Homo sapiens: one gene and its partner. The protein of the gene in region 2 interacts with the protein of the main gene of each other region in a pairwise test. Each region holds a gene or a part of one and is shown on either strand. Other genes may lie near its edges. The genes, in order: PANX1 and CFHR5.

Region 1 (10,745 bases), on a different chromosome or scaffold from region 2:
ATGAGCCAGAAACAAAATCAGCAACCCTGGAGTGGTCATTTAGGATCAGTTTTGTCTCCTTTTACAAAGCAATGAGTGCTTTATAAAAGCATTTCTCCTCAGGAAACTGGCTCCTCAAAAGTCGTTCTCCAAGCCAGCAGCTCACAGTAGATGGATGAGTTTACCTGTCCTAATAATACTTTTTATTATAATACTTTTATTACTGATACTTTATTATAATACTTTTATTACTGATACTGATACCTAGTAATACTTTTATTAGATGAAATGTATCCCCAGGCCTCCACATCAGCCTTCTGGGGCCCTGACAGTTGTTTACCAGTAGCTCCACAACCTCCACAGGCTTGTTCTCTCATCCCTGTGAGGGAAGGTTCAAAAGGCAACTGGATTCCTTACTATTCAAAATCACTGTGACTATTTCACACAAACTTCAACCTAGAGGATTTGCAGCTAAAGAACCTTAAGGTGGTCATCTGCCTCTGGGAAAAATGATTACTATATTCTCAAAACCAGCAGTTACAGGAACTATAGGAGAGAAAACAAAAACAATGTGCCCTCTCCCAAGAACACAGAGCATTTGCTAGGAGTTTTCTGGCATAGCCTTTACTGTGGCTACGCTTTCTCCTCTTAGGCACCAGCCCATGTTTCTGCTGCCTTTTACTGGACTCTGAAGTCCTCAAGGATGGGACCTGCCTATGCATATCTGCACATCCAACTTGGTACTGGTGCCTGGGACATCACAGACCCTACTGGAGTTCAGAGAGTGGGAATGGCTTGGAGACTTCCTGGTGTCCTAAAATATCAATTTTTACCGTTTCAAAATAGAAATTAAGGATAGTCTACAGAAGATGAAGCTTTTTGTAAAAAAAAAATCATATCCTAGAAAATGTATCTCGTAAATCTTTTTAAATTTTCAAAAGAAACCAGTGTAGAAACTTGTGATGGAACATCTCAGATACGGCAATATAATAATTTTGCAAATTCCATTATTTAGGTTACTGCCATTTCTAAGTCACAGAATAATTCAACAGTAATAAATATCATGTAACAGAATAATTTAACGCACTGATTGCTACTTTGATATTTATCATCAGCTTTCCATTTCAGAAAACATCACAGAAGTACAAATAAAATCTGCTTTTCTGAATATTCCAAAAGGCAGACAGCAGCTTATATAATTTCCGTTCTTCAGAAAACAGTAATTAGATTATGTAAACAACTGTCCGTAAGAGCTAAAAGTAAACTTGGAGGTTCCTGAGGATTACTGAACTTATGCAACATGCTAACTTTCTAAGACTAAAACTGGGAAGTTCCACAGATGTTAAAGATTTTTGTGTGTGTGTGTAAAATGTGAACATAGGATCTATTTACATAGTTGGAATTGGGAACAGTTTTTAACATGTTCTGAATCAGCTTTAAATGTTTATGAAATAAGCTTACATTTGTCTTATCCAACCATTTATAATCTTTATTCTATAATTCTCCACCAGTGCTAGAATTTTCTTCCCAAATGGCCTCAATTCGGACACTGAATAAACGATAATGAATTTTTTAAAGCTGTGCTTAAATATAAACAAAATAAACCGCTAAGTTTTTCTGGCTCCAAGCACGCCATATGAAGCATGCCAATGTCACTTATGTGCCCTGATCACATTCAGGCAAAGTGTTCTTCACTTTAAATACTCCTGTGTTCCATTATTGTTTAAGTAAAATCCTATTTCAAATGCCTTTGATAACAGAGAAACCGCCTGTAGACAAACTCTTTGAAAGTGACTGAATTAATGTCTTCTGTGATGTCAGATTTCCCCACTGGGCTCTTTTGGAAGCATTCTTCCTGAATTGAAGTCACTGTGAATATCCTTTAGATTTCATCTTGTTAACTCAGTTTTCAGTCAGAGCAGCACTTGGGCCTGCTGCCCTTCAAGGCACAGTGCAACAAATAGTGGTTACGGGATTTCCATCAGCCAAGGTTGACAACTAACAATGTAAAGAGAGCTCGAGTGTGGGCCAAGGCATCGGACCTTACACCTAACTTAGGACATAGGTCGACCTATGGATTATTAGCCAGTGAATGCTTTTCTTGTCTAACAGTCTTTAAGGGCACATAAGAAACTCACGTTAAATTATACCCTGACATATTATTATTCCATGAAAACAAAACAAATCTTCCAAAGTGCTTGTTTTCCAGTAGCTCTGGGTCTTGTCTCACCACGGGTACAGAAAGGTATTGCTCCGAGGCTCTGACAGGGCTACTGCTCTTGACTAATTGTTCTTGTCTTTCTGCTTTTCATTTGATGAGGACTTACACATAGTTACTTGCTGCAGTTTACTATCTCTCAGGTGCTTCCTATGGGAAGTTCATAAACCATTCTTCCATAACCTTTTGTTGATCACCATTTCCATTAGGGACTCAATAAGACATGCTCAGTATCTCCACCAAGAACCATTTATTGCAAACCAGCTGTGAAACCAACAGGGGTGCTTTAGCCAAATTAAATCCCATGTCGCAGAAGTCACAGATTTACAGCTCAAGGAAAAAAATCATCAGCAAGAAGAATCCAGAAGTCTCTGTCGGGCATTCTTCTCTCCATTATTTGCTTTAGTTTCACTGTCTATGTTCATACCTGTCAAAATTGAAAACAAATATTTATGACAGAAACATAGCAGGAATTACCAATACTAATCAATTTTTCTTCTGCCAAAAATTCCTCTCACAGTCTATACCATGTTTTGCTTCTTGGCCTAACTAAAAGAATCAATAAACTTTTAGTCCCCTTTGAAAGAGAAAGTCAGAGAGTAACAGAGAAGGAGATCAGAGGTAGAAAGGAAAGCCAGTAAGATAAGACAAAAATAAGCAAGAAAGACAAGGAAGATTGCTGAGCAAGAGAGAGTGTGAGACAGACAGAGAAGAGGGAAAAACCAGAAAAAGCACAGAAGTTATTCTTCTTTGGAAATGTAGAGCAGCACCAATTCTTTTCCTCTCTCTCCTTATACTGAGGGGTTCCCACTCCCCCTACCCCGCACCTTGGTATTAAGGTTTTTAATGCTTGGAAATGGTTTAAATGATGGGCAGGGTAAAGACTGTCAATATTCCCACAAGGCTGCTGCAAAGGCTCTCGGTAGACTCCCGTAGCCTCTGCCAAAAGCAAACCCTACCTTGGAGCTCTGCCGTCTGGTTCCCCTGCTCCTCTCTCATCTCTGCAGACATGGGAGTTTTGCCATCAACAACATCCATCTTGATCATGCCAAGGTTTGTCAGGAGTAGCATTGGGTCGATCCCCTGACCACTGCTCTTAATATTCTCCAGTACCTTAAGACACTTGTATGACTTGACCTCACTTATATTTTCCTCCAAGAAGAGATTGTAGAGGCTCAAATCGTTGTACCCTTCAGATTTGAAATGCAGAACATCAAAAGTGGGGAGGATTTCGTACACTTTGAGAACATCTGTCTTCTGTCGGAATGGAACAAACAGCGTGTAGACAACCACGGGAGCCAGCAGGACATAAACCACAAGGTTAATGACACTGAGCAACTGGAAGATGCCCACGGCAATGAGTTTGCACTGAAACTGATCGGGCACGGTGCTGTCGTTTCTCAGGATCCCTGATTTGATGCTGCACACAAACTCGTCTGAGAGTGAGGAGAGGCTGAAGTAATAGCCCAGGTAGATACACGCTAACAGTATAATGATGAGTGTCAGCAGGCGGCAGCTAATGTACTTGATGATTAAATTATTAGAATTTTTCTTTGTCTTCAAGTACTGCTCCACAATTGGGTACTTGAAGTGGCTTTCAGATACCTCCCACAAACTAAAAAATAAAGGAAACAAAAATAACTTAGGCACTCATCAAGACCATCAAATATTAAAGGCAGATACACATTCAACAATGTCACACTAAAAATTTCAAACACCCATACTTCTTTACCTACAACGTCAGTAGTCAAAAATAAAATCCGTTTAAAAGAGGAGGAAGAAAAGGAATAATAAAATGCTTTTCCCCTTAATATTTAACAGAAGGCCTAGTTAATTAAATGAGTTAATATTTGGAAATTTTTAGAGTGATGCCTGGCATCTGGTAAATCCTAAATATGTGTAAGCATACGCCTCTTACAGGCAAGGGGTGGGACAACTCAGGGGGTATGGGCAAAAACTATGGGGTCTAAAGGGCATGGTTCAGTTCCCAGACTCTCACTTACAGCTACAGAAGAGTATTTTTATCCAGAATAAAAGTGGAGGAGGAGGTTAACAAATGCACTAGTAATGTTGCTCTGAGGGTTAAAGGAGATAATGTACTTAAATAACTCAATACGGTGTGTGAGATATATTAAATATTCAAAAAATGATGGCTCTTATTATTATTCCAATTATTCAATAACAAGAACCAAAAGAAGGTTGTGAAAAGGCAAGCCACGACCTACTCATTCCCCATTTCTCTCTCATCCCTTGCTCAGCTGCCTTGAAATCCTCTGTGCGTCTCCATTAAGGAGTTAAATAGATCAAAGCAAGCAAGCTTCATATAGCACCTCAATCTGTTACCCCTACAAGAACTGCATTTTTAAAATGAGATGTAATGTTTCACTCATCAAGGGAATGAGTCTTGACAGAAGGATAAACAAATGGGTAGGATGGGTCGCGGTGAGATTTGGGGAGAGTGGACATCCCGGGATACTACAGGCTGTCACTAGGTGCATGACGTCCCCCTGCTTCCACTCCTGCCCCGCCTCCTAGCAATGAGAACTCTGGGCCCAGACTGGCAGTAGAAGGGCAGAGAATTTGTCCTACAAAACCCGATGAGCTGCCTGCTGGGGCTAAGTTACCTTTGCCCTAAGTTCTCGGTAACACCTGGAACTGAGCAGGCTCCATCTCTCATGTCAAGGTCACGCGCACTCTTTGCAGCCTTAATTGCACGGTTGTAAACTTTGTCAAGTTCTTCCATGATAAACTTCAAGTCTGAGCAAATATGAGGAGCAGCTGCGAAACGCCAGAACAGCGGGGGCAGGTACAGGAGGATCGCAAAGAGCAGCAGGATGTAGGGGAAAAACTGAAAAACAAGAGAACAAATCATGGGCTTAACAAACCCCCCATGCAGTAACCTATGGCGCCAAGTGATGCTCTCATTTTCTCACATCTTGAGACAAATGTGTATTGTGGAAATTGGGCTCATTACCTAATAACTACTTCTTATGGCTAAATTCCCCTGTCCAGGTAATACCTGTCACAGGTAACTACCTATTTTTTTTTCTTCCATAGGTATTAATTTGAAGTAATCAGCAACTGCATGGTGACACATGGTGTGTACGTTCTAATCACAGAAGGAAAATAAAAAAATAAAATTACTCCCGTTCCCTGAACAAAATCCCAGTTAAGAAACCTGCAGCTATCACGAAGGCTTCTGCTGGGTTTTTGTTAACTTTTATGGTTTTAAGAAGCAACTAAGGCATACGGCTCCATTTTTGCCCTACTCTGGAATCTGGGAAAATGCCAAAGAAACATGTAACTTCCCCCAAAACAAATTAGAAAAGCTTCGACTTCAGTGATTCAGTAATCATCCCAATAAGACAGCTGAAATAAGCAGTTGAATTCACAGAATGCAGAATGAATGTGGAACAGACTTTGAAGGCAGTCCAACACCCTCATCGTATAGTTGGATAAACTTGGGCTCAGAGAGGCCATCCACAACGGGCAAGGGAATCAAGAGGAGAGCATCCACATCAGGGTGCAGACACACACCAAACAAGAGGGGATTCACACGTCAGAGAGGGTGAGGAGCACCCCAGTAACCAGGACCACCAGTTGGTCAGAGGTGGCTTAGCCTCAGCAGAAGACTTAGGAAGACCGTAAATTGCAGTCAGTGCAGATCTGAATTGAAGCTCAGCATTGCGGCCTTGGGCAATCATGTCTACTCTGCAGAACTAAGTAGCTGCGACAGTGACCATGTGATCTGCAATGACAAAAAAACTTTATGATCTGGCCCTCTGCAGAAGTTTGCTGACCCTGGTCTAGGCCCTTGATGTCACTTTCGACTATCCTTTTGCGTGATCTTCTAATCAGCAATAAGACATAAGAGTATTGCTTTTTGTTTGCTCTTTGCCTTCTTGGACAAAACTGCTTCTTTTCCTTTCTGTTCCCTAATTAGAACCCTCACTCTGTGCTTACCAAGTGGCTCTCCCTGCCTCTATTCTCTCCTGTACACCATTACTGAGGCTTAACTCTTGGAACCGCCAAGTTCACCCTGCTCAGGTACCTGCAATGGCTCCCGCTGTCCCCAGCATTTAGCCCATCCATCTGGTTAGTTTTCAAAGTCTCTGACCCTCAGTTTCCTTATGTATGAAATGGTCATGGAATAGAGGTGTCATGAAGATTAAAGGAGATAATTGATGGAAAATGCTTAGCAAAGGGCCTGGCATAGAACAGGCACTCAAACACTCCAGGTAACCACAAAAAGATTAGCTAGGTGGACACGTTATGTTCAGTCCTCACAGCAACCCTGGCAGGGACTCTATAGATGGCTCCATTCTGCAAATGGGAAGAGAAAGCCGGGAGCAGTTTCTGGCCCCAGATCACAAAGCTGGTAAGTGAGAGTCAGACTATGTTGCCAACCTCTCTGACCCCAGAGACATCTTTTTCCAATCTAACACACTCTCAATTACTTTACTCCTCTGGAAAACTTCTCCTTACTTTTGGATGGGTCTATCTCCACCATTTCTCAGAGTTGTAATGGACGAGGCCATGATGGCCGTAAGTTGACATGAAACCCTCCCCTCAAAACATTTCTGGGAGTGGACGGCAGCCCCCACAACATGGCCCTCACTGTAATTTCAGATGTACAGAGCATTCCCATAAGCCCCTCACTCAGTTTCCCCCATTGCTAATGACTCATATTTCTGTGATATATTTGTTAAGACTAAGAAGCCAACATCGGCACATTATCAGAAACTAAACTTCAGACTTTTATTTGTAAAGTACAGTAGTAGTTTTTCCCCTACTGTCCTCTTCCTGTTCCAAGATCCAATCCAGGGTACTCACTGCATTTAGTTGCCATGTCTCCCTAGACTCCTTGGTTTTGTGACAGTTCTTCAATCTTTCCTTGTTTTTAAATGCATAAAATAATATATATATAGGTTCACAAAGGAAATAGAGCACTGATATACAGTTACCAAAATATTAATATTTTGCATCCAATTCTTTATTCATACTTAAATTAGGATCTAGCAGATGATCTAACAGCTATTGAAACTTTGAAGTAGTGAAGAGTAAACGATATTCCAGGATATCTGTGATTTTCTGTGGGTGACAAACTCACAGGTACTGCTAATATCACTATGGATTGTTGCCTACATAAAAACTTTCTTAATGCTAAATTTTATTTGGAAGTGAATAAAAAATAAAGCTGTCATATATTTTCCTATCCTAGTTTGCAGGCCTCCTGTCACTATCACAGACCCACATAAGGAATCTCTGCCCCAGACGCAAGACAGAAATAAGCACAAATGACCCCAAAACTTTGCAAAGCCCTCTTACCAAGACAGCTGCTTTACTTTGGCATTCTGGCACGGGATGAGGTGTTTCAAAAGTATTAACCCAATTTGCAAAGGGCTGCTACACAATGACACACAAAGCAGGCTGTGATTAGCTGAATTTTGGCTGCATAATTCATAGCTGGCTGTGGGGAGAAGGAATGTTCATTTAATTCTTGCCCAATCAGAAGGGTGCCCATTAGTTTAAAAACATAAGTGCATGACACAGAGTTTCTGCTGCTTCCATAACCACGAAAGCCAGGCATTCTATCTGGGAACCACAGGGAGAAAACTTTTTCTAACATGGGCTTGTGAAACATCTGTATAAGTCACTTTTGTTTCAAAGCTATTTGAATAATGGCATTTCACTTCGAACTGTTCCCTTGAATTAAAAAGTGACTATTTACAGTCTGTGGTATTTTTAAACATGCCCAAGTGGTACAATAATTTGGTACAATAAGTGGTACAATGAATAGTTCAGCACAGCTCATTGTAATTAGAAAAACAAATTACATATAGGGTGTAAATTTCCCTAAAATAGCCTTGTACCTTGATCACCACTATAATAACATCATTTAATGCCACATCTCTTGGTTTTCTCCACACTAAAACCTCTTTTTATTTTTTTCCCACCAAAATAAAAAGGCAACTTTCAGTGATTCTATAAAAATGTAGTAAAACAGGAAATAAGAATCCAAAATAACACAAAATTACAGTCTTTAATTTCAAATAAGAAATATGGAAAAGCTGCAGGGCTTTGAGGGTGCATCTGCAGATGGAAACAGCTTTGTTCATAAGCTGTGTCAACTCCACATTAGGCCTGGGATGCTCAGCATCTCTTGAAGCCATGATGGCACTATTCTGCATGATGTTCGAGTGAGTATTGAGCTCTTCCAAGAATAGGGAAACTTCTCAAATCATTGTGGGACCAAGCAGCTGTCCAACTACAATTTTCAGTCTATCTGCCTTAAAAATGTGTGCTGTTTCTGGAATGGGTTATAGTTAAAACAACAGAAACCTCCAGATGGAAGGAACCTAGAGGGTGAGCAGTACAACTTCCCTCCATATTCAAATCCTCTCTACCTCATCGAAGGCAAAGAACCATCCAATTCGGACTGAACAACTCCTCCCCTAAAATGCATGTGACCTCATCTTAGGGGATTAAGTGCAGATGGGTAAATTCACTCAAAAACATCTCCTGGGGACCTGCTATGTGCTAGGCAGTGGGCTGGATGCACGGCCCCCACAGACTAGGCACAGAGTCTGCCCCAAGATTACACAGGACAGATGGGAACACAAGCTGATAATTAAATCATCAAAACATGTAGGTACTAAGCACTGAGGGAACAGAAAAGTCCCTGGGGAGGTGGTCAGGGAAGCTTCATAAAAGAGGTAACACCTGAACTATGTCTTAAAGTACAGTGCGGCAATAAAATAAAACAAAGCCTTATGTTAAGACTCAGCACAAATGTCACCTCTGTGGCCCTTTGGAATCCTCTTTCCTCTGCTTGGAATCCTTTCCTCCGTGTTTGTCTGTTGAATTCTCACTCATCCAGAGCACCAAGGTAAATGAACAAGCCTGTGAGTGAGGAAGTAGACAGAGCAGAGGCTGGAAGGGTGTGCTGGCTTGAATACTGCCCCCCAACCCTAACTAATGACCACCTGGAACCTCAGAGTGTGATACTGTTTGGAAATAGGTCTTTGCAAATATAATTAGTTAAATTAAGATAAGGTCATGATAAATTAGGGTGGGTCCTAATCCAATGACTTGTGTCCTTATCAGAAGGCCAAATGAAGACACAGAGACACACAGGAAGAAGCCTGTGATGACAGAGGTAGAGACTGGAGTGATGCATCTACCACCCTAGGAACACAGAGGACTGCCAGCAGCCACCAGGAACTAGAAGAAAGCACATCACAGACTCTCCCTGAAAGCACCAAAAGGAGCCAATTCTGGCAACACCTTGATTGTGGACTTCTGGCCTCCAAAACTAGGAGGAAATACATTTCTGTTGTAATTTGTTATAGCAGATCTAGGAAACTCACAAAAAGTGTAAGCAGAGACTGAATTAAGAGGGCCACAAATTCCCACACCATACACAATGGGGTACCACTGGTAGAGGGCAAAATCAAATATATTCCAGAAAACCACTACAGAGGCAAAGAAGAAACACATGGGAAGGAGAGAGACCAGGCAGGAGGTCACTGTGGCAGAGAGGCAGGAAGAGAAGACAGATCTGAGAGCAACAGATGGGGGAGACATACACTTCAGTGTCCACACAGAAGAGGGGGACGGAAAAGGAGAAGAACTGAGGATCACGCCGGGTGTGTAGCTCATGCAAGGGCATGACGGGGTGGAACCTTCAGGTGAAATAAATGAAGAGTCCCAGATTCAGAGCAGACGGGAGTGAGGTGGGAGGCAGACCTGAGAAGATGAGAAATTTTGAACATGAGATACCTGCAGTCAAAACGCCCTGGTCTGTAGTAGATAACTGAAAATAAAGGAAAAGAATCTAGCTGTACAATTCAGGATTTGGCAGCACATATGTGGTCAAAGCCAACTGTATGGTTAAGATCATCCAAGGAGAATGGGCAGAAGGAGAAGACCAGAAGACCACGAACAGGCCTGAGACCCTATAACATTTAAGGGTCAGGCAAAAAGAGAATCTTGGAAGAAATGGAGAAAAGCAGTCAGAAAGTAGGAAGTAGGTAAACCAAGAACATCCTGCACTGGGGAAGTGGAGTAAAAAGATGCATGAAGGATGTCTGTTCTGGCTATATGCTGTTCAGGTAATACCGCACTTACAGACAATCCTAGACAGCGGGAGTCAAGAGTGAACAGCTACCCCAGAAAGCTAATGTGCACTCCCTGAGAAGCTTACAGAAGGCAGAAAATACAGATGGCATGGCTTCTATTCAGCACCAAAGGTGCTGTGGTTTGCACTGGGTGACATTCTGGAGTGCAGCTGGAGGGAACCCATCATGGGGAGAGCCCTGGAGAAGACAGCGAGCAAAGTATCTGTTCACAGAAGGAGGAAAAGATGCCTACCAAGATAAGTAGAACCAAGTGACAAGGAGCAGCCTTCCCACGGATCTATGAAATGCAATGAATTGTCCTATGAGGCAAGGAGCTCCCTTTCAATACAGTTTGTGATCATCTGGGAGAGCTTGAGTATTCCAGATTAAGGGTCCATAGGGTTTTCTTGTAAAGGGCCAGAGAGTAA
Region 2 (11,107 bases):
TGTGTCTTGACAGGGGCAAGGTCTAAAAGAGCCTGAAGAGATGACAGATGTAGCCCTTATATTATTTGGGAGCATTTTATGAAAATCAAGTGAGAAGGAAAGACGTAAAGCTTTGGGGACTATCTATTCCCCAAATATAATATTTCTATTCATAGAAATATTTGAATTATTTCTAAAATGGACAAAAGCCTTGATACTTGATACCTATTTTCTAATATGTATTTTTGTCAATATGAAAATAAGTATTTCCTAGGAAAATCAAGGAAGAATTAAGTAGAGAGCAATACCATGTTCTTGGGCTAGAATACTCAACAGGATAAATAAATAAATTTTTCTCAAATTGTACTATAGGCTTAACATAATTACTTATTAAAATTTCAAGAGAATTCTTTGTAAATATAGATCATTTCATACTAAATTTATATTAAAATGCACAGGAGTTAGAATGGCTGAAACATTTTTTTAAAATAATAAAGTTGAAAGGATCACACAAATCAAATTTGAGGCCTCAAAATATAGCTACCATATTAAAAACAGTATAGTATTGATGGAGGGATAGACATAAATCAATAGAACAGATACAGAATCCAGAAAAGGTCATATAATTGTCCTTGTTTTATTTCTGCATATCCACAAATTTCTCTTGGGAGAAAAAACAAATAAATATAATATTTCTATTCATAGAAATATTTGTATTATTTCTAAAATGGACAAAAGCCTTGATAGTTGATACCTATTTTCTAATATGTATTTTTGTCAATATGAAAAGAAGTATTCCCTAGGAAAATCAAGGAAGAATTAAATAGAGAGCAATACCATGTTCTTGGGCTAGAATACTCAACAGGATAAATAAATAAATTTTTCTCAAATTGTACTATAGGCTTAACATAATTACTTATTAAAATTTCAACAGAATTCTTTGTAAATATAGATCATTCCATACTAAATTTATATTAAAATGCACAGGAGTTAGAATGGCTGAAACATTTTTTTAAAATAATAAAGTTGAAAGGATCACAAAAATCAAATTTGAGGCCTCAAAATATAGCTACCATATTAGAAACAATATAGTATTGATGGAGGGATAGACATAAATCAATAGAACAGATACAGAATCCAGAAATAGACCCACACAAATATGCTCAAGTAACTTTTAACAAAGATGCACAAATAATTCAATACAGAAAAGATCCTTTTTTTTTTTTTAGTTCAGGGCTACCTGTGCAGGTTTGTTACATAGGTAAACTTGTTTCATGGGAGTTAGTTTTACAGAGTATTCTGTCACCCAGGTATTCAGCCTGGTAGCCATTAGTTATTTTTCCTATTCCTTTCCCTCTTCCCACCCTTCACCGTCCATTAGGCCCCAGTGTGTGTTGTTCCCCTCTATGTGTTCATGTTTTCTCATGATTGAGCTCATACTTAGAAGTGAGAATGTGTGGCATGTGGTTGAGAAAAGTTTCTTTTCAACAAATTGTGTTGGGGACTAGCACTTTCTTAGCCAAAAAATTAATTTTGATTTAATCTCACATATTTTACAAAACCTAACTCCAAATGGTTCCTATATCTAAATGCATAATGTAAAACAATCAAACTTGTAGAGGAAGAGAAAATCTTTGTGATCTGGGGTTTGATGGAATTGTTCTTAAACAGGACACCTAAAGGATGACCCATAAAAGAGTGAAATAATAATAATACTTTATCAACATTAAACACTTTTTATCCATGAAAGACATTCTATGAGAGTGAAAAGATAAGCTACTTATTAGCAAAAAATATTTGCAAATAACGTATCTGACAGAGGACTTATACATGGAATATATAAAGAATGCTCTAAACACAGGTAAAACAATCCAATCAATAAAGGTGCCAAAGCCTTGAACAGATCTAACAAAAAAGATATTCAGATGGAAAATAAACATGTGAAAAGTTATTCAATGTCATTAACCATTAGGGAATACACATTAAAACCACAATGAGATTTACTATGTATCTAATAAAATGCTTTAAAAAAATTAAATGAAACACATTGGTAATAGTAAGTGCAAGTGAAAATGCAATACAATGGATCTCTCATACATTGCTTGTGGAAATGTAAAATGTCATAGCCACTATGGAAAACAGACAATTTCTTATAGAGTTCAATAGCACTTTTCATAAAACCCAGTAATCTCACCCCTGACTGTTTACCATAGGGCAGGAGATGGCAAACTATATCTTAGGAACTAGCTATCTATTTTCTTAATAAAGATGTATTGGATGTGAGCCACACCTTTTTATTTATGTATTGTCTATCATTATTTTGGCTCTATAACTACAAAGTTAGGTAGTTGTGGCAGAGGCCATATGGTTCACAACCTTAAAATACTAAACATATGACCCTTCGAGAACAAGTTTGCTGTTCAAGTAAAACATTGCACAAAATTGTCCATCATAGCTTTATGTGTAATAGCCAAAAAGTAGAAGCAACTCAAATGTCCTCAGATGAGCGAAAGAATAAACAAACATGTTACATCCATACAATGGAGTACTTCACAGCAATTAAAAGAAATGAATTACTTATAATACAACAGCTTGGCTACATTTCAAGGACATTACCCTGTGTGAAAAATATCCAAATCAAAAAGTTGACTTACTGTATAATCCAATTTATATAACACTCAAAATGACTAAATTACAGTTATGTAGAACATACTAGTGATGACTAGCAATGAGGGGTGGGGGAATGTGGGGACCATAAAAGGACAGCACACGGGAGTTTTCTGGAGGTGATAGAATAGTTCTGTATACGACTGAGTAGTTCTACATATGACTGATTGTGGTGATGGTTACATGAGTGCATACATGTTGCAAAATTAATATACCACACAAACACAAACGCAAGTTCATGGGAGAGACCATGAAATTCAGTAAGGTTGGTAGCTGAGTTAGTAGTAGAGCACTAATGTCAATTTCCTGGTCTCAATTATTGTACTATAGATATAAGAGATGCAGGAAGTTATAGTTATTGGAGGAAACTGGGTAAAGGGTACATGGGCATTCTCTGTACTATTTTTATGACTTATTATATGAATCTAAGATTATTTCAAAACAAAAATTATTTGGATTATATAGGCTGGGATGTTTTACTTTTATAGCACTTTTGGGGAAGAGAATTTTCAATATTCAAGAGTTATAACCAATTTCAGCAATTTTTCTTTGAGATACTTAAATCTATCTCAAATTTTATCAGTAATAACTTCTACAAGCCAGTTTCATATGTATTTGAATGCTATAATTTGCCTTTTAACCCTTTCATATTTTTTGTAACAACAAACAGTTTCAGACTTAATTTACTTTCCCTGCACTAAACCTGGAATCCACAAAAAAAAGAGGTCCCAGTTTCCTAGATTTATAATGCTGTGTAAGAAACTTATTGGCATAAAACAGCAATCATTTTATTATACTTAAAGATACTGTTAGGAATTGACGCAGGGCACTGAGGTGATGACTTATAACTGTTCCACAATATTTGAGCCTCAGGTGAAAAGATTTAAATGGGTTAGGACTCAAATAACTGAGATTTGGAATCTGCAAATGTCACTCACCTGTATGACACCTGGGCTATTGCCTGGGCCAACTGGGACTATCAACCAGAAGATTTACATATGGCTTCTGCATACAGATTGAACTTCTTGCCAAATGGCAAAAGGCTTCCAAGATAGTGTCAGAGAGATAGTCTTCCAAAATATAAACCCATAACTCTCTAATATCTAGCAGAGTCACTACCACTGTATTGTATCAACAAAAGCATGCCACTAAAAAGTACAGATTTTCAAAATGAGGGAAATGTGATTCCAAATCTTGATAGGATCATGGCAAAATCACATGGCAGAAGAACAAGTGAGATGAGACACAGTGGAGTGAGCATCTTTCAAAATAAAATTGGCCACAAAATTGAAGACAAAGTTATTTTCTAAACTGCCCTTTTATTTCTTATCAAGTATAGTTTCCTTCTCCTTTTATTTGTTGCTAATGTTTGCAGGAGGGCATAATCTCCTGAAATTACTCAGAACAAGAAACAAACAAAAAAGGGCAATCTAAGTTTCTGAATTAGGAGAAATATTCAGCAAATAAAAAGGAGAATAATTGTTGAGTACTGGGCTTCAAAAAAAATAGACAAGAGAAGATAGTGTTAATTCAACTAAAAATCGGCACTAGCTCTGTGAAAATTAACTCTGTGCTTACAAATAAATAACATCCCCTGGATTCAGACAAACCAATGTTTAAAGGTCACAGAGATTAGAAGAAGCCAACAAAAGACTGAGATGGTGAAGCCTTTGAGACAGAAGAGAAACCAGGAGAATGTGGTGTTCCATAGACCATGTGAAGCAGGTATTTCCAAATGGAAGGGGAAAGTCATGAAATTTTTCTGAGTATTCAGTTTTGACCAATGGATTTGATTAGATTGAAGAAGGCATTGGTGACTGTTACAAGAGGGGTTTAAGCGTAGTGTTGGGAATGAAAAAATGAATTAAAGTAGAGATTGTAGATAACATTGGAGTCATCGTATTATAAAATGAGAAGTGAATTAGATTACTAGAAAGAGATTTGGGTTCTATGAACAATTTTTGAGCTTTTGTTGTTGCTCTTCATGATGAAAGATGTTTGGTATGTTTGCATATTGGTGGAAATAATTTGGAAAATGGAGAAATTAATGATACAGGTGAGAAGGAATAATTGAAAGAGCAAAATCCTTGCACAGAAAAGATGGGATCAAATCTGGTAGAGACCATAACAAGATAGGAGTAAAGATCAACATCCAGTGAAGCAAGAGACAATGCAGAAAAGGATGCGTGTGAACAGCAGGTAGTTTTCTTCTGATTGATTCTATATCTAGATGAAAAAATAAATGAAGTCATTAGCAAAGCACAAAGTGAGGATTGGTGGTTAAGGAGGGAGATAATGAAAACAGGAGAGGGGAAAAGCAGTGTGGAAATTATTTAGGACCGTGTTCATTAATTTAAAGCAAGGCAAGTCAGCACAGTTGCCTTTGTTTTTCTTGTAGACACACTCTGCTGCTTCAATTCAGGCACAGGGCAGGTAGAGAATTTATTTGCAAAGGATTGAGGTTTTCTAAGACTTGGATTACAGATAGAAAGGAACGAATGGGCAGGAGAGTGTGTGCAAGGGACTGACTGACAGTGATGAGCCATGGAATCTAATTTAGATGTGGTGGGAAGAGAGAAAATGAAGGGAAGAGAATAGTGAAAAAGTGTCAGGGTCATTGAATGTTTGGAACAAATTTAGTAGAGTAAGTGAGCTAAAAAGATTGTTGAAATGGTCTAGAGTGTGATGCTTAATATTTAGATACTTTAGGTAGTGTAGTAATTGGAAATGACAAGGTTTAGATAGACTAGAATCAATAGTGGAGACTACTAATAGCTCACAGGGACTTCTCTGGTTTCTTGATTGGACATAGCTATGTGCATTCCCATTGACTTCTGAACCACCATAAGTAAGTTTCCTCTTAGTGAGATCATTAGGCTGTTTCTGTAAATTTCCCCATTAAATGTTAAATTTCTCTCAGGCTGGGCACTTTGTTGCTTGCTTCAGCTAGTATCCTCTAGTCTTCTCTGATTGTTTCCCACTGTAATCTCTTTGTATTCAATAGGATCCTCGGGCATGGACCTTTCCAAGCTATAAAGTCACTCTTCTCCAGCAGGGGAGCAGAGCTTCCAGTCCACATAGCCTGCCTGCCCATCCAGGGTTCAACTTCTGAGCCACGGAATTGGGCTGCGAGACAGAGGTGGATGAAAGCATCCGCTCTCTTTTACTGAATTTTATGGAGACTTTCTGGAAAAAATATTTCCCAACATTATGCTGTTTGGCCAATTTCCAGAGACAACCAATGGTTACTTTTAAATTTTTATCCAGTTTTATTGCTGCCTTTTGGTTGGGAGTGAATATACCAAGACCCTCACATAGCCATTCTCGAAGTCCCACCTGAACAAAATGATTTTGAATTATAATTCTGTTCTTCAAACATTTCAGGAAACGTTACTTGGCAAAAATTATTCTTTTTTTTTTTTTTTTTTTTTTTGAGACAGAGTCTCGCTCTGTCGCCCAGGCTGGAGTGCAGTGGCGCGATCTCCACTCACGGCAAGCTCTGCCTCCCGGTTTTACGCCATTCTCCTGCCTCAGCCTCCCGAGTAGCTGGGACTACAGGCGCCCGCCACCACGCCTGGCTAAATTTTTTTTGTATTTTTCAGTAGAGACGGGTTTCACCGTGTTAGCCAGGATGGTCTCGATCTCCTGACCTTGTGATCCACCCGCCTCGGCCTCCCAAAGTGCTGGGATTACAGGCTTGAGCCATTGCGCCCGGCCAGCAAAAATAATTCTTGATTAGACCTTTTATAGTTTATGAAATATTAAAACTGTTAAGAAGGTACCTAATTCTTAGTGCCAGTTTTAAAAGGGAATTTACAACTACAAAAGTGATATTGTTGTATTAAGATGAGGACTGATGACTTGCACTTGCTTGCCTTTTGAAACAGCTGAACCCTTGGCTAGAAAAAAAAAAAAAACCCAGGGGGCCGGCGGTGGGGAGCTTCCTCTCTCCTCTAAACAGTCCATTTCTGATTGTTCCAAACTCAGAGACTCGGTGACTACAACAAGGAAATTGAACAGCAGTTATTTTGCTTAAATAAATATTACATAACGAGCTGAGAATATTATTGTGAAGACACTGATTAGATACTATTTGCTTATTTCACACAACCCTCCATGAACTTTGATGTTTTCCACAAAGGGCTTTACTAAACTAGCTTCCCCTTAGTACATTGAAATTCAAAGTCATGCTTGTAACTGTTAATGAAAGCAGATTTAAAGCAACACCACCATCACTGGAGTATTTTTAGTTATATACGATTGAGACTACCAAGCATGTTGCTCTTATTCAGTGTAATCCTAATCTCATGGGTATCCACTGTTGGGGGAGAAGGTAAGTTGAAAACAGATCCGAATATTTTAGTTCCTTTTCAAATGTATTTATTGATTGTGTGTGTGTATGCATACAAATATTTTTAAATGAATAAATAGCTGAGGATAATTTGAAGGGGTATCACAATATTCATCTATTTTCTGGAAATATTTTCCAACATGCAATTAGCAGGAAAATTGAATGAAATTAATTCTCTCCGTTCTCTAGTTTGCTAAGGGTAAATGGTCACCAAATAGATAATGTAAAGAGAAATCAAAGGAGAGAAAATCTGCTATAATAAAGATGACAAGGTGAAATATTAGTGTAATTCTGCATAAACTCTGCAATGCCACTGACTAGAAAAATCAACCCCAAAAGATTTGGCCACCTTCATTATGTTTTGAGAATTTTATTTTCATAGATTTGATAATTTACATTTTAAATGTTATTAAAATGAAGGAATTCTCATTTCAGCCTAATTATCATTCAACAGGGAAATATATTTTAATGAAACAATAGAAAATATTATTTTTATATATAAACCAGTGAACTGCCAAAAAATTGTTTCTTCTGAGCTCTTCCACAAATTTCAAAAGTGAAATAATATATCACTTCTTTATTAATACTATAAACTGATTCTTATAACATTATAAACTATCCCATTTTATTTCATGTGGAAATTAAAGCCACTATATCAAAAGGATTGCAAACAAAATCTCTAACAAGGTCTAGGATACTGATTAAACTATGTGTGTACGTGAAGTTTCAATCATTGTGCTATATACTCTTTGATTTCCAGAAAGTTTTTATTTTACTGCTTTACTGCTTTCTAATGTTTACAGATCTTTAAATTTTTTGAACACTTTCTTCTCAGTCCTGACATAAGAGAAAAATATGAACCATAAAATGCTTTCTTTTTAAGATATGCCCTTACAAATGTTGCAAAACATTATTTCTATGGGCCTAAAATTCATTTTATTTTGTTTTCACTTTTAGTACTGAGCTATAATCACAAGAGTGCGATTGCATGAGTGTATTTGATTTTTCTTAAGTCTGTGTTTATGATATTTATTAAGTGGCTTAAACATCTGTTACAAATGGCATTACACAAGGATTTCTAAAGGGGGGTGGAAGCAGAGGAAGATAAGTGAAAATTATGAGGATAATATGTAGAATTTTGACAATTCCTAACCCCACAAAACTTTCAAGCTTCAGTCCAGTCCCAGGATAAACTTTAGTGAAATTCTATTAAAAGTTGTCTAGGTGTTAAATGACCTGTAAGTGTGCATTACACTTTTGTTTTGGTGTCTATTTAGAAACTGGCCAAACAGCAGAAATAACAGACGAAAGCAACACTTTTGTACAAATAGAAAACTGCATGCTTCCAGTAGCAAAACATGAATCAAGCAATATATTGTGCTTCATGCTGTAGCAAAGAAGCTGGAAAGAATATGACAACGCCACCCACCCCTCACTACTACTTAGAGTGTCCTAAAAGAAAAGCAAAATGTAAATAGGCAAATAAATTGCAAGGTTTTATATATAGGTAATTGTCTGTGTGTGTGTGTGTGTGTGTGTGTGTGTGTACACTCATACATCACTTAATGATAGGAAAACGTTCTGAGAAGTGTGTCTATAGGCAATTTCGTCCTCCTGCAAACATCATAGAGTGTACTTACACAAACCTAGATTGTATAGCCTACTACCTAACTAAGCTATACGGCCTGTCACTCCTAGACTGCAAACCTGTACAGCATGTTACTGTACTGAATACTGTGGGCAACTGTAGCACAAATGTAAGAATGTGTTTACCTAAACATATAAAAGGTACAATAAAAATACAATATAAAATATTAAGAATGGCAGACTTGTATAGGGCTCTTACCGTCAATAGGGTTTGCAGGACTGAAAGTTGTTCTGGGTAAGTCACTGAGTGAGTGGTGTGCAAATATGAAGGCTTAGCACATTACCATACACTACTGTAAACTTCATGAACACTGAATACTTGAGCTAGGTAAATTTATTTTATTTATATATTTATTTCAATATTTTGGGGGGAGCAGGTGGTTTTTGGTTACATGGATAAGTTCTTTAGTGCTAATTACTGAGCTTCTGGTGCACCCAGGATAGACTAAATTTATTTTTAAAACTTTTCTTCAATAATAAATTAATTTATGATAAGCTTTCTACTTTATCAACTGAAAATCTTTTAACTTGTAACTCTTTTGTTTTAGCTTAAAACACACCTTGTATAGATGTACAAAATATTTTTTCTTTCTATCCTTATTCTGTAAGATTTTTATCTTTTAAATTATTTATTTATTTACCTTCTACACCTTTTTGTTAAAAGCAGACACAAACACACACATTAACCTCGGCCTACGGAGGGTCAGGATCATCAGTATCACTGTCTTCCTCCTCACTCTTGTTCCACTAGAAGGTCTTTAGGGCAGTAACATGCATGGAGCTGTCCTCTCCTATGATAACAAAGCCTTCTTCTGGAATAGTTCCTGAAGGACCCGCCTGAGGATGTTTTACAGTTATTTTTTTTTAATAAGTAGAAGAAGTGAACTATAAAATAATGATAACAACTATAGTACATTAAATACATTAACCAGTACCATGGTCATTTATTATCATTATCAAGTATTGTGTACTATACATAATTGTGTGTGCTATTGTTTATATGACTGGCAATGCTGTAAGTTTGTTTATACCAGCACTGCCACAAACATGTGAGTAATACATTGGATTATGATGTTGTGGTGGTCATCAGTTGATAGGAATTTTTCAGCTACATTATAATCTTATGGGACCACTGTGATATAAGTGATCAGTCATTGACCAAAACGTCATTATGTGGTAAATGACTGTATGTCTGTATATATACGTGTGTGTGTGTGTGTGTGTGTGTGTGTGTGTGTGTGTATCCCAGAAGAAATATATTCACAGTATTCTATCAGAATGTCGAGACAAGGAAAATTATTTTCTGCTTTTGGAGTGGGTTGTTGTGTAACGGCAGGCTTGCCAAAGGACGATAACACTCCTAGCACCATTGCGGATGTGCACAATGGTTATACGATGAATGTTGTAGAGCAAGTTCTAAAGGATAGGTAGAATACAACTGGATGGTGAGAACTAAGTTATTCTGGATAGCGAAGAATATGTAAGTACATATGCATGAAAATCAAGTACTATAATTTTGCAATTTTCAAAAAGTAAATGATATTTAAAAGGAGTTATGATAGGTTAATACTATCAAGACACGAGGGAGTCTTTCCCTCAGTATCTTCTCCAAAACTATCTAATGTCAATTTTTAAACAGTTAGGTAATAAATTTAAGGTTTCACAAGGTTAAATACCACAAGAATTATTTCAAATATTGTGCAACATTAAATATTACTTCTAGGTAGTTAAAAAAGAGAAATTTCCCTTGATTTGTCAGCTGAATTTCTGCATGCTTTTTCTAAATAAGGTGAAAAACAAAACAATTTCTTATGCAGCAATGCTATATTCAGGAAATATCTTGAGCTAAAAAATGAGCACACTATATTGAGGAAATATCTCGAGCTAAAACAGCATTCAAAGATAAAGTACATCAAATCCATAGAATGTACAATATCAAGAGTAAACCCTAATGTAAACTATGGGCTTTAATGACAATAATACTGATAGTGAAGGGGGCTATTCATGTGGCAGGGAAGAGGAAGTGGTATATAGGAAATCTCTGTACCTTCCACTCAATTTTACAGTAAAAAAACTGTAAATAAAAAATTAAGTCTAATAAAAAATATGTGTATATATAAATATATATATACACAAGAAAAAATAGAGTCAAAACATGAATATTTCACCCATTTTCTACATTGTTTTACCATATCTTGCACCATAGTGCATATGGATGTATGTGTGAGTGTCTATATAAATATATCCAGTAGTATCCTCAGTATCATTAGTATCCTTAAGGAATTGTTCCAGGACTCTTTTCACCCCCAGCAGATACCAAAATCCACAGATGCTCAAGTCTCTAAGAGAGAATGGCGTAGTATTTGCATATAACATATGCACATCCTCTCATATAATTTAAATCATCTCTAGATTATTTATAATATCTAACATAATGTAAATACTATATAAATAATTGTTATA

The links.
Region 1: the proteins of CFHR5 (region 2) and PANX1 interact in binary tests that used the Homo sapiens proteins (3 or more experiments, as listed by UniProt).

The regions. Positions count from the first base shown.
Region 1 is NC_000011.10:94,172,669-94,183,413, reverse strand, and holds the end of PANX1 (pannexin-1), read right to left. Parts: intron 9,101-10,745; exon of another isoform or gene 8,997-9,100; intron 7,668-8,996; exon of another isoform or gene 7,526-7,667; intron 5,046-7,525; coding exon 4,822-5,045; intron 3,813-4,821; coding exon 3,157-3,812; intron 2,625-3,156; coding exon 2,545-2,624; 3' UTR 1,446-2,544; downstream 1-1,445. UniProt on the Homo sapiens protein: Ion channel involved in a variety of physiological functions such as blood pressure regulation, apoptotic cell clearance and oogenesis.
Region 2 is NC_000001.11:196,970,744-196,981,850, forward strand, and holds the start of CFHR5 (complement factor H-related protein 5 precursor), read left to right. Parts: upstream 1-6,812; 5' UTR 6,813-6,921; coding exon 6,922-6,979; intron 6,980-11,107. UniProt on the Homo sapiens protein: Involved in complement regulation. The dimerized forms have avidity for tissue-bound complement fragments and efficiently compete with the physiological complement inhibitor CFH.